2 separate regions of the Homo sapiens genome follow, and region 2 is linked to region 1. The links come from fine-mapping of genetic effects on gene expression. A gene starts in region 1. The other region holds a variant in brackets. All regions are shown on one strand. Distances are between the middles of the regions.

Region 1 (5,381 bases):
GGTTATCAGCATCAGCAGAGATCAGAAAACAAAAATAAAGCCACGCGTCAGGGTAATTATTTATTTTTATTGTCTCTTTATTCCTGTAATGTAAAAAGGAAAACAATGTCATGTAACTCTCTTCGCTACAGATACGGACAGTTTCTGTAGCCTCTAAAACAGGCAGGAAATGGCCTTCATAACCATTCTCCAATTTTGCTGGAGGATCAGGGTGGTGGAAGTCATTTTAAAAACCAGCTGCAATATACTGTACTACCAGAGAGTGGGGTGAAGCAATTGAGTCCTTTTACCTAGCTGACTCCGAATCAAGACAGCTAAAAGAATGTACCAGAAAGAAAGAAAAAATAAAATGCTACCAAAATCCCAATCCATTATCTACCCTTTATGGAGAAAAGTACCTTTATAATGTTTTACAAAGAATCGTGGTCTCAAGTTTCCACTTTGTTTTAGTAATAAAGAACTTTCAAAAAAAAAACCACTCTAAACAACACCCTCCTGTATAGAAAGCTCTATTTTAATAATTAATGCAATGATACCCTTGTTGGAACAATCCAGCCGCTTTGAAACTCTGGTATTTACTTACTAGATGAACAAGTTTCTCTATGGAGGTGCCTTTAACTTCTCAAGAAATGTGTAAGTTAAGACGGCTCCAAATTACATTTTAAGAGAGCCTTGTATTTTTAGAGGTTCTTTTTCATCGGTCAGAAAAACTTACGTTGACGATTCTGCAAGAAAGGTTGCTCGCAAACCATGCATCGCAAAGCTACCGAGGCAAATTTAAAGAACCAATGAAAAAGAGTGGAGGCTCGTCTGAATCTTTAATTGGCTATGGGAATTTCAATTTATTGCATAAATAATCTTTTAGACCTCAAGATACACGTGACCTAGGGACAGTTTACATCAATGGGCAAGACTTAAAAATAGACACCAAGTTCAGCAAGTATTTGAGCACCTACTAAAAATTACACAACTCCCACAACAACGCATTTTGCGTTTCTAAAGTTGTAAGCAGCATGTTCGGACGCTTGATGCAATTTCCCAAGTTGTTTGGGCCCCCCCCCCAAAAAAGTCTTCTCAGTAAAAGGTGGGGGGAAGGAGGGTATTTTGGGGGCAACAAACCAAACTGGTCTGTCGCATGTTAAGTCAATTTCACGTTCACCTACTGGTCACCACGAAGCCGAGGAAAGTTTTAAAAAGAACATTCCGGGGTCTCCAGAGATCATCTCTCCAAGTCCGCTCGGCACCGGCGCCTGAGCTGGGGCTAAGGTCCCGCGTCTCTGGTTCTGTCCTAATAGAATCCGGGACATCCACAGGGATTCCCCGGGGCAGCCTTCAGTGAAGACCAGGGAGAGGGGCCGCCCGGGTCTCACGGGTGCTTCCCGCGCTGGGGATGGCGGCGAGCAGCCACGGCCTATGGACGCGCAAGGGAAAGAATGCAGCGACCCCGGAGCTCGCAGGGCCGCCCGCCCAGGAGTCTGAGGCTGGGAGGACCTCACCTTGCTGCGGTCCTCCTCCTGCTGCTGCAGCAACTCGGGAACCGCGGCCATGGCGACGCGGGACTCGAGCAGGGGCCGCCTGGCTGTGCGAGGAAAGAAGAAGCTGGGCCGCCGCCGCCGCCGCCTGGGCGCCTCTCGGGGGCGGCCACGGCCCCGCCTCCGCCGGCCTCCCTGCCCGACGGCGGCAGGAGGCCTCCGGACTCCGCCACCATCCCAGCTGCCCCGGGAGCAGGCGAGCAGGGCGCCACGTGCTCCCCCAGAGCAGCCTCCCAGTCCCCGCTGCCGTCCATCTTGGAGCCGGGCAAAGACGCCACGTGGGGCCTACCCTTGCTCCGCTCCACGAGGAGGCCGCCAACCGCAGGGCCGCGACACGGACGGGAAGCAACGGACACTCTCCCAGCAAGACGCGTCTAGAGAAAGACCGCGTTTCGGTGCGGGGGGAATTTATTACTCAGCCCGAGTCCAAGATGGCAGCGAGCGCTGACGTCACCAGATCTCGTGAGAGCAGAAGGGCGCGATTTGGAGGCTCCCGCGCTTCGGAGACGCCGGCCCTTCCGCTCGGAGAGGTACTCCCTGCCTCTAACTGGTGGCGCGTTGGCGGAGGCCGACGAAAGCCTCGGGTGGGGCGTGAGCGCCGCGGGGCATTCTGGACCTGCTTTGCCTTAGGCTGTGCCTAATTCGAAACCAAAGCGCGGGACGGATGAAAGTACGGGTCGCGAGAGGTTGTTCGCGCCTTGAGAGTTAAGCGAAGTGTGGTGGCTTCCAAGGTACCGACACTTGCCGTAGGCTGGGCTTTTATTTAAGTCGTCTTTTCTCTAATCCAGACTCCTGCCACAGGGGCCACCGCCGTCCTGGCCCCGCCAGGGGTCCGCACCCACGGCGGAGCGGGAGGCGACTTTTTGCGGTCACAGTAATGGGACCTCAGCGCCGCCACCAGCTCTGACCGGCGAGCGACGGGACCCTCCAACCCGATTTCCACGTCTGTGCAACGGGTTCATTCTAGACCCACGGTAGAGGGTGTGAGGACCAAATGAGAAGTATCCACACAGAATACTTAGCAGAGAGCCTGGTGTCTAGGAATTAGTCGTCGTCTGTCACCTAGGACTGTGTGGCCGCCATGGGACGGGCTCCATCTTTGTGTTTTTCCGTGTCTCGCACACGCCTCCCTTCCTGGGCGTCACATTCCTGCAGATTAGAAACTGGGACGTCTTGCCTCAAGCTGTCTACTAATTCGCATTTAGTATGTGTCGGTCCTTCGGGTATTGAGTCTTGATTTATTTATAAATTTTTTTTGGAGGCAGGGTCTCGCTCTGTCGACTTTCTTAAGAAAGGGCTCTGTCCAAACATGTCGAAAAAGTTCACAATTTTGATGTGCAATATCATTCTGATGCAGCTTTCGCTTTGATGGTTGTTTTCTCTCCAATAGGAATACAAACATAAAGGCCTTCGACCGTTGCAAATAGACTAAAGTGAAAACAAATCTGAATGAAGATGAAGTTATTTCAGACCATTTGCAGGCAGCTCAGGAGTTCAAAGTTTTCTGTGGAATCAGCTGCCCTTGTGGCTTTCTCTACTTCCTCTTACTCATGTGGCCGGAAGAAAAAAGTGAACCCATATGAAGAAGTGGACCAAGAAAAATACTCTAATTTAGTTCAGTCTGTCTTGTCATCCAGAGGCGTCGCCCAGACCCCGGGATCGGTGGAGGAAGATGCTTTGCTCTGTGGACCCGTGAGCAAGCATAAGCTGCCAAACCAAGGTGAGGACAGACGAGTGCCACAAAACTGGTTTCCTATCTTCAATCCAGAGAGAAGTGATAAACCAAATGCAAGTGATCCTTCAGTTCCTTTGAAAATCCCCTTGCAAAGGAATGTGATACCAAGTGTGACCCGAGTCCTTCAGCAGACCATGACAAAACAACAGGTTTTCTTGTTGGAGAGGTGGAAACAGCGGATGATTCTGGAACTGGGAGAAGATGGCTTTAAAGAATACACTTCAAGTAATTATCTCAATTCTGATTCTATATGTTTGCTATGTTTTCTATAATAGAGAGCAACGGTGTCAAAAGAATGAGGTTTGGTTTTGTTTTTTTAACTTACTAGCAAGGAACTCCCTTCAGATAGTAATTAACATTAAATAGCACTTTATGTGTATTAACTCACTTGATCCTCATGGTAGTCCTGTGGAGTATAGATACTGTTATCCACATTTTACAGATGAAACTAAAATAGATCAAATATTTGACTAAATAATACATAAAATTCACTTGTTTTATAAGCTACCAACAATATTAGAATTGCTTGTTTTCCTTGATTATTGAAAAAAGTCACCTGGTAACAGAATTCTAGTTGTTTGCTAGATAATTCTGTTTAGAATCCAGTAAATACCCACTGTCCTACTTATTAGCGTAAACTGACTCGTAAATTTAAAGACCTTGAAGCAGACCAGAACACATGACCTATATTTAGACCTTGGTAAACATAATCAGAGGTTCTTCATAAGGATCTGAGGATAAATACACTTTAACCTTCAACTTCTAATTTACTAACTTGGACAAGTGAGGAGAATAGCTTCCTTAAATTTAATATTCCATTCAAAAACAAAGACCATTGGCACTGGTGAATTAGCTAGTCCCATAAATTATATAGGGGTCTTTTGTTAAAGGAAAGTTTCACATCAATCATTCCTTTACCCAAGCTTCCCAAAGTGCAGTACATGTACTCTTAGTAGTACACAAACTCTTTCATTTTTGTTTTAAGAATAGTGTACTGACCCTTGCCATAGCCTGGGCTTCTATTTAAGTCGTCTTTTCCCTAATCCAGACTCCTAAAACTATGCGTGTAACACATTAAACATGTCACATGTTCTAAAGAAAAATACTAAGTATATATAGGTGGTATTGGATATGTACCAAATGGTCAAGGCCTTTGCTCCTTATAATATTCCTCAGCTGTGTGGGGCAAGGATTATATATGCAAGAGCTAACTGCCTTCCTAAGATAGTTAATTAGTAGCAACCACCAAACTATTGTCTGCTTTCCAAGCAAGCAACATAAAAATCTTCTAATGGCATCTTACAGTTTTGTATTTGTACCACTAAAATTTAGAATTGATAGTTTTCTCATGAGAAGTTATTTTCCTTAAACCAGGAATGTACAGCTGAAATTACTAATAAGAAATGTATTATTAAAAGGCAGAAACCTGCTGGAACACATGGGACCCCAGGGCCTGTAGCTCTTGGCACAAAGTAAGGAAGTGCACCAGAGAGGAATTTCTGTTTGGAATGTGAATGAGCCCCAATAGCCCAGGCAGAGAGAAGACTGGTTGTTTTTTTTTTCATAGAGTCAGCTTTGTTGATCTAGATTAGCACTCAGCTGTGTTTCTCAGTTAACTCAGTAGCAACCTTAAGAAATGAGCAGAATCGCTTACCCCAGCACCCCGCCCAGACTTGACCGCCGGGACCCAAGTGATTCTCCCATCTCAGCCTGCTGAGTAGCTGGGACCACAGGCGTGCACCACCATGCCTGGCTAATTTTTTTATTTTTTGTAGCGACAAGGGTCTCCCTATGTTGCCCAGGCTAGTCTCCAACTCCTGTCTTCAAGTGGTGCTCCCACCTCGGCCTCCCAGAATACTGAGACTACAGGTGTGACCCACTGTGCCCAGGCAGAATCACTCTTTTTAGAAAATAAGTATTAGTAAGCAGTGGGTTCTGAAATAAATAAAGGGACAATTAGTGTCATGGTGAATAAAAGAAAAAGGGCTCACTAAATTGATTAACGGGTCTGGAGGATACTGGATCCCAAACCCAAGAAGGTGGCACCCAAGAAGAATTACATTTTAAAAATTAAGAAGATTTTTTTAATGAAAAATATTGGATCAGTAATTTCT
Region 2 (5,381 bases), 28 kb before region 1:
AGCATGGCCTCAGCAATGGAGGTTGTGTCTTGGGTAACCAGAAACCTGAAGCCCGCAGGAATCCTGGAGGGGACTGCTGGTCTGGGAAAACACCATTCAGAACTACTTAACTCTCAAGTAGCCTGACATTTCTCTTCCTGCTACCTTAGCTATAAGCTGATAATCTGAGCAGCTCTGCGGGGATACCAGGCTCCTGCTCAGCTGTGGGTGGGCAGGTGGCTGTGCTGGGTCGCCCCTGCCGCCTACAGGCAGAAAGCGGATGGTGCAAGGTTTCCTTCCAAACGGAAATCGCCCTTCACAGAGCTGAGCCTGGGAATTACCACAAAGAAACCTCACAAAGAAAAGGTGCGCAAGGCAAATGTTCAGAAAACAGACCCCTAAACCCTGAGATGGCACAAGTGAATGTGTTGGGTGGTGAACTGGCCAAATGCTTGTGCTCTGTCACCACAAACGACCCCAGTGGTCTGACATGACCTCAACGGCTTCACAGACCAGGGGTGTGCTTTCCTTCCTCGTGACAATCTCCTAATTTTGCTTTTCAGAGTGGGGGAGGGCGGGGAGAGGGGAGGTGGATGGCAGTTGTCCCTGTTGTCTAGTCTGGAGTACAGTGGTGTGATTTTAACTTACTACAGCCTTGAACTCCTGGGCACAAGCAGTCCTCCCACCACCTCAGCCCTCCAGGTGTATGCCACCACTGTAGGTTAGCATTTTTTGTAGACACGGTTGCGCTGTTTCTCAGGCTGGATCCTAGCTTTTAATGAAATCGTATGACATGTGAACTGTGCAGTTTTGCGTGTGCCACGAGGCAACTTTCTCAGCCGTGCCTTGGGCAAGTCACAGCCTTTTTGGCCTGGATGCCTTAAGGCAGCCCATCTGAAACCACTTCCCATTCCCATTTCTAGAAACCTTCAAGGGTTCCCTATGAATTGTGCACCCACATGGGTTTTCCTGGAGGATCACTAGTTCTCAGAACCATACAAGCACACAGCAAAAGCCTCTCCACACATCACCCTGAAGTGACCCAAATTCCCATTTCTCAATGTGGGACCTATGCTCTCCTGCACTCCAGCAAGATAGCTGTGGATTCCCACCTGATGCTGTTCCTCCTGCTGCCAAGTGCCTGCCTGCCTTTCCAGGTCTCAGCACACCACACAGGTCGCAGTCAGCATCTAAACCCATCCCCCCACCCCAGACCACTATGAATGCACCCTCACATACAGGTAAAGGTAGCAACTCACTAGGTGACTGACAGAAGGGGAAAGGTGACTACATCCCTGACCCAGAGTGCCTCAAATTTCCTAAGTGACTGTCAGGTGCAATTTAATGAAAAGCCTTGGAACAAATACAGCAGGTAAAACATCTACAATCATACCATCCATGAAGGCTGTATTAGAGATTGCTGGCATAAAACTAATTTGAGGGGCCTCTGAAGTGCTGACTCCAGCTCACAGATCAGTCAGCTGAGAGAGGCAGCCTAGATCACTTGGTGAGCAGCAGACCCAGCACTCAAGATTCATGCCTCTGCTGTCCATTTGACAAGGTTTAGTCTCAAGAAAATGCACCAAGGCCCCGAGGCCAACAGCCAGAGCTCCACCAATCAGGGCTGATCACACTGGTGCTCAAGCACTGCGGCCCAGGAACCTGACTGCAGGAGTGCTGGCTCTACACTAACAGAATGCTGGGCGTGTGTGGGTGGCTGCTGTGGACATTATGGGGGAGATGGGTAGGAAGGACAGATTTGGTTAGGAGCCCAGACTGAAGTTACAACTGCCAAGTTTAAATTCACTCATTTTGTGCACCGTTTCCCAAGTATGTACTGTGAAGGTAGAAGGCACTGTGGCCGCCTGTAAATAGCTGGGGAGGCAAGACACGAAGACCAGATAAATGTTAAGAAACATGCTCCCTGTATGTATTGAAATCAGTTCTGCAACCCTCATACCAGTTGGCTGTAACAGATGCTAAATGTGGTGGGTAAAATGTTTTTAGTCTCATGGTCTTACCATGAATTACTTATTAGAAAGGTAAAGGAGATTACCACCCTAAGTGCTCAGTCATCAACAAAGGAATAGACACACAACTCCTGAAGACATGTCATTGGCACCAGGGAGTGGTTTCGTGGAAGACAATTTTTCCATGGACAAGGTGGGGTGTGGAAAGGGATGGCTTCCAGATGAAACCATTCCACATCAGATCATCAGGCATTTGATTCTCCTAAGGAGCGCACAACCTAGACCTGTTGCATGCCCAGTTCACAATACTGGGTTTGCACTCCTATGAGAATCTAATGCTGCTGCTAATCTGACAGGAGGCGAACCTCAGGCGGCAATGCTGGCTCACCTCTTCCTAACAAGCCATGGACCTGAGACTGGGGACCACTGCCCTATGGTAAAGGCCCTGGCCAAAATGCAAACCTCCATCAGGTCAGGAGCAAACAGACAAACCCACATTTAGAGACCATCTAAAAAAGGCCTGGAGTACTTAAGAATGTCAAGACTAGGACAAATTTCCCCTGACCGCCCCCAGGACTCTGGGCAGAACCTGAAAACCCTGTAACCACAGCCAAACCCTAGCACCACCTGCACTCCTGGGACACACTCTGGTTGTAGTTTCCACGAAAACAGGCC[G/A]TACATTAGTAGCACGATTATTTTATTATATGCTTTATAAAAAAACAAACACCCAAAGACATACAACACACCGCCCTCACCCCCCAGCGGCCATTAGGGAGGGGGCTTATACTTTTCCTAATGTAGATCTGGCCATCTTATAAAGCAGACCACATTATTTGTTTCCATATATACCTGTAGATATTTCTCTCCCCTCAAATATTTATATCTCGACTAAAAAAAGGAGGTGCAAAGAGTATATAAAGATAAATGAGATTTTCTTGCTGTTGTTATAGTACAAACACCAGATGACTACCAGTGGAGTAACAGGGCAAAACAAAAACACAAACCCCACCTTCAGTGAGGAATGGAAGGTCTGTTACCGACCTCAAGTAGCTGAATCACCTGCTGTAACTGGCACCTCCCTGACAATCATGGGTTTGTAGGGACATGGGCCAGGTGATGGCTTCTACTTGTTTCCAGAAGGCTAATGTGTCCTACACCCTTTCTTAGTAACTAAAGACGAACTACGGGAGAACCCAGTATTTGGATTCTGCCCAGAGGTATTAAATGCACAAGGAAAAATTAGTTATGTCCAAGTAGCAAGCAATAATATTTTTAAACCAACATGGTTAAATGTTAAGATTTGTAGAAATCAAAATATTTATTCACATAATTTTAAACTAAAGTTGAAGCTAATATATCTTCCGTGGTAATGATTTAAGTGCAAGTGATGCTTGGCTTTCTTTCACATTCATTTCTTTTCTTCTGAGTGAAGGCATATCAGTTATTCTTGAACAAGTCAATACAGCTCTGCAAAAGGGAGACATTGTTCTGTGGGGAAAAAAGGCAAGGCAGACCAGTGAATTATTAAAACTTGCCATATACCTGGAATGACTCAAGTACACCAACACGGCTTTTCACGGGAGGTTTAAAGTCAGCCAGAGCAAGCTGGCCCTTCTCTTCATCAAATCCCAGGTGAACTGCAACGTACCACGCATCCCCATTTCATGTTTCAGCTCCTCTCCCTCAGTGGGTAAGGCTACCAGCCAAAGAGCCGACGTTCACTCCAGCACCTCTGCCCTCACCTGCTTGCTCCTAAATGTGATCCTGCTTACTGTAACTTCTTAAGACACTATCAGTGCGTTGTTCCATGAAGGCAAGGGCCTTGGAAAGATTGAATAAAAGTTGCTAGAAATTAGGGCTGGGAGCTTTAGCTCACACCTGTAATCCCAGCACTTTGGGAGGCCAAGGCAGGTGGATCACCTGAGGTCAGGGGTTCAAGTCCAGCCTGGCCAAAATGGTGAAACCCCATCTCTATTAAAAAAAAAAAAAAAAAGTTGCTAAAAATTAGTCATGGGTGACATTATAAACAAGACTACAAATAAACAATGAGTGGCTCCCATCAACTAAGTACTACAGACGATTAATACCACAAGGCCACCCCAACTGCCTGATGACAATGGGTTAGTAAACTGGGAAATAACTTGGAAAAAACCATAAAAGATGTTGGCTTCATCTGTAGAAAACACTTACCCTGGCATGTTTTATTTCCAGTTCAGACATTTCAATTAGATTCTTTCTAAATGCTGCCACTCTCTTCCGTTTGAAATTTATCAGTTCTACAGGAAGAAAAAATGTTTATGAAACCAAGAAAAACTAAACAATTTTCATGTTCACTTTAACTACCAAATGGCATTCTTACAAATGGTCTCCAATGCTTTCAGGCACCAGCATTATTTCCTCACATTTGTATTATCTCTGTGACTGGGACACATCAGACATCTATTAACTGTGGTGATACAGCTATCACTGTCTTTAAGTGGAAAACATCACTGAATCACCAAGCATCGTGAGTGGGAGAGCAGCAGCTTATGACTTGGAGAACACGTTGATGAGCAGCCTCACTCTCACCCTCTAGGTACCAGTGACTGGGAACAGGGCTGGAGTATGGGTGGTGGTGAGCCACATACTTCACCAATGGCTTGTGAAAATGCTTCTCAAAAGAAGACATACCAGGTTCATGCAAACAACGTTCAGCAGCACTAGCCATTAGGGAAATGCAAATTAAAACCACAATGAGATTACCTCACACCTGCTAGAATGCATTTTCTCAAATAGATGAAAGATCAGTGTTAGCAACAATGCAGAGAAAAGTGAACTCTTCTACACCGTTGCTGGGAATGTAAATTAGTACAGCCACCATGGAAAATGGTATAGAGGTTCCTCAAAAAACTAAAAATAGAATTACCATATGATCCAGCAAACCCACTTCTGGGAATATAAAAGGAACTGAAATCAGTATCTCAATGGGATATCCGTACTTCCATGTTCACTGCAGCATTATTTACAATAGCCAAAATACAAAATCAATTGAGAATTATCCATCAGTGGATGAAGACAATGTAGTATAGATACATTATACTATCCGGCCTTTTAAAATAACAAAATTCTCTCATATGGGACAATGTGGATGGATCTTAGAGGACATTATGCCAAATAAAATAAACCAGGCACAGAAAGACAAACATTACATGATCTCACTTACAGGTAAAATCTTAAGTTGAACTCCTAGAAGTAGAGAACAGAATGATGGTTATCAGAGGATGAGGGTGGGGTGCTGGGGAAGGTGGGAAAGAGAATGGGTAGAAGGCTGCAGCTAAACTCAAGGAATAAATTTTGAGATCTACTGCACAACAGGGTGACTACAGTCAATAATATATATTGAAACAGCAAATTTCAAATGTATTACCACTGAAAAAAATGAAAGATGTTAAT

Alleles and levels. Alleles are on the strand shown, and positions count from the first base shown. SD is a standard deviation of normalised expression in the study named.
In carriers of allele G in region 2, the expression in B cells of the gene that starts at base 1,916 in region 1 tends to be lower than with A alone (large effect, 0.80 SD a copy in Fairfax 2012).

The links. PIP is the estimated chance that this variant, and not a neighbour inherited with it, causes the effect.
Region 2: its variant is the best candidate, but not a certain one, in a credible set for the expression of SNX5 in B cells (Fairfax 2012, PIP 0.86).

The regions. Positions count from the first base shown.
Region 1 is chr20:17,966,879-17,972,259 of GRCh38, forward strand. SNX5 (sorting nexin 5) reads right to left here and starts at 1,916. Exons shown (of 13, transcript NM_014426.4): 1 at 1,497-1,916. The coding sequence starts at 1,547. MGME1 (mitochondrial genome maintenance exonuclease 1) reads left to right here and starts at 2,140. Exons shown (of 5, transcript NM_052865.4): 1 at 2,140-2,263; 2 at 2,923-3,492. The coding sequence starts at 2,982. RefSeq lists enhancers at 629-1,383, 1,245-1,294, 1,345-1,514, 1,384-2,138, 1,755-2,064 and 3 more and a silencer at 1,545-1,754.
Region 2 is chr20:17,938,971-17,944,351 of GRCh38, forward strand. SNX5 (sorting nexin 5) reads right to left here. Exons shown (of 13, transcript NM_014426.4): 12 at 4,140-4,225; 13 at 2,630-3,437. The coding sequence ends at 3,387. Among named protein-coding and RNA genes, the nearest start is that of SNORD17, 21 kb to the right of the region's middle. RefSeq lists enhancers at 1-335, 1-97, 1,338-1,427, 1,458-1,547, 1,523-2,114. The variant G/A (reference allele first, on the strand shown) is at 2,625.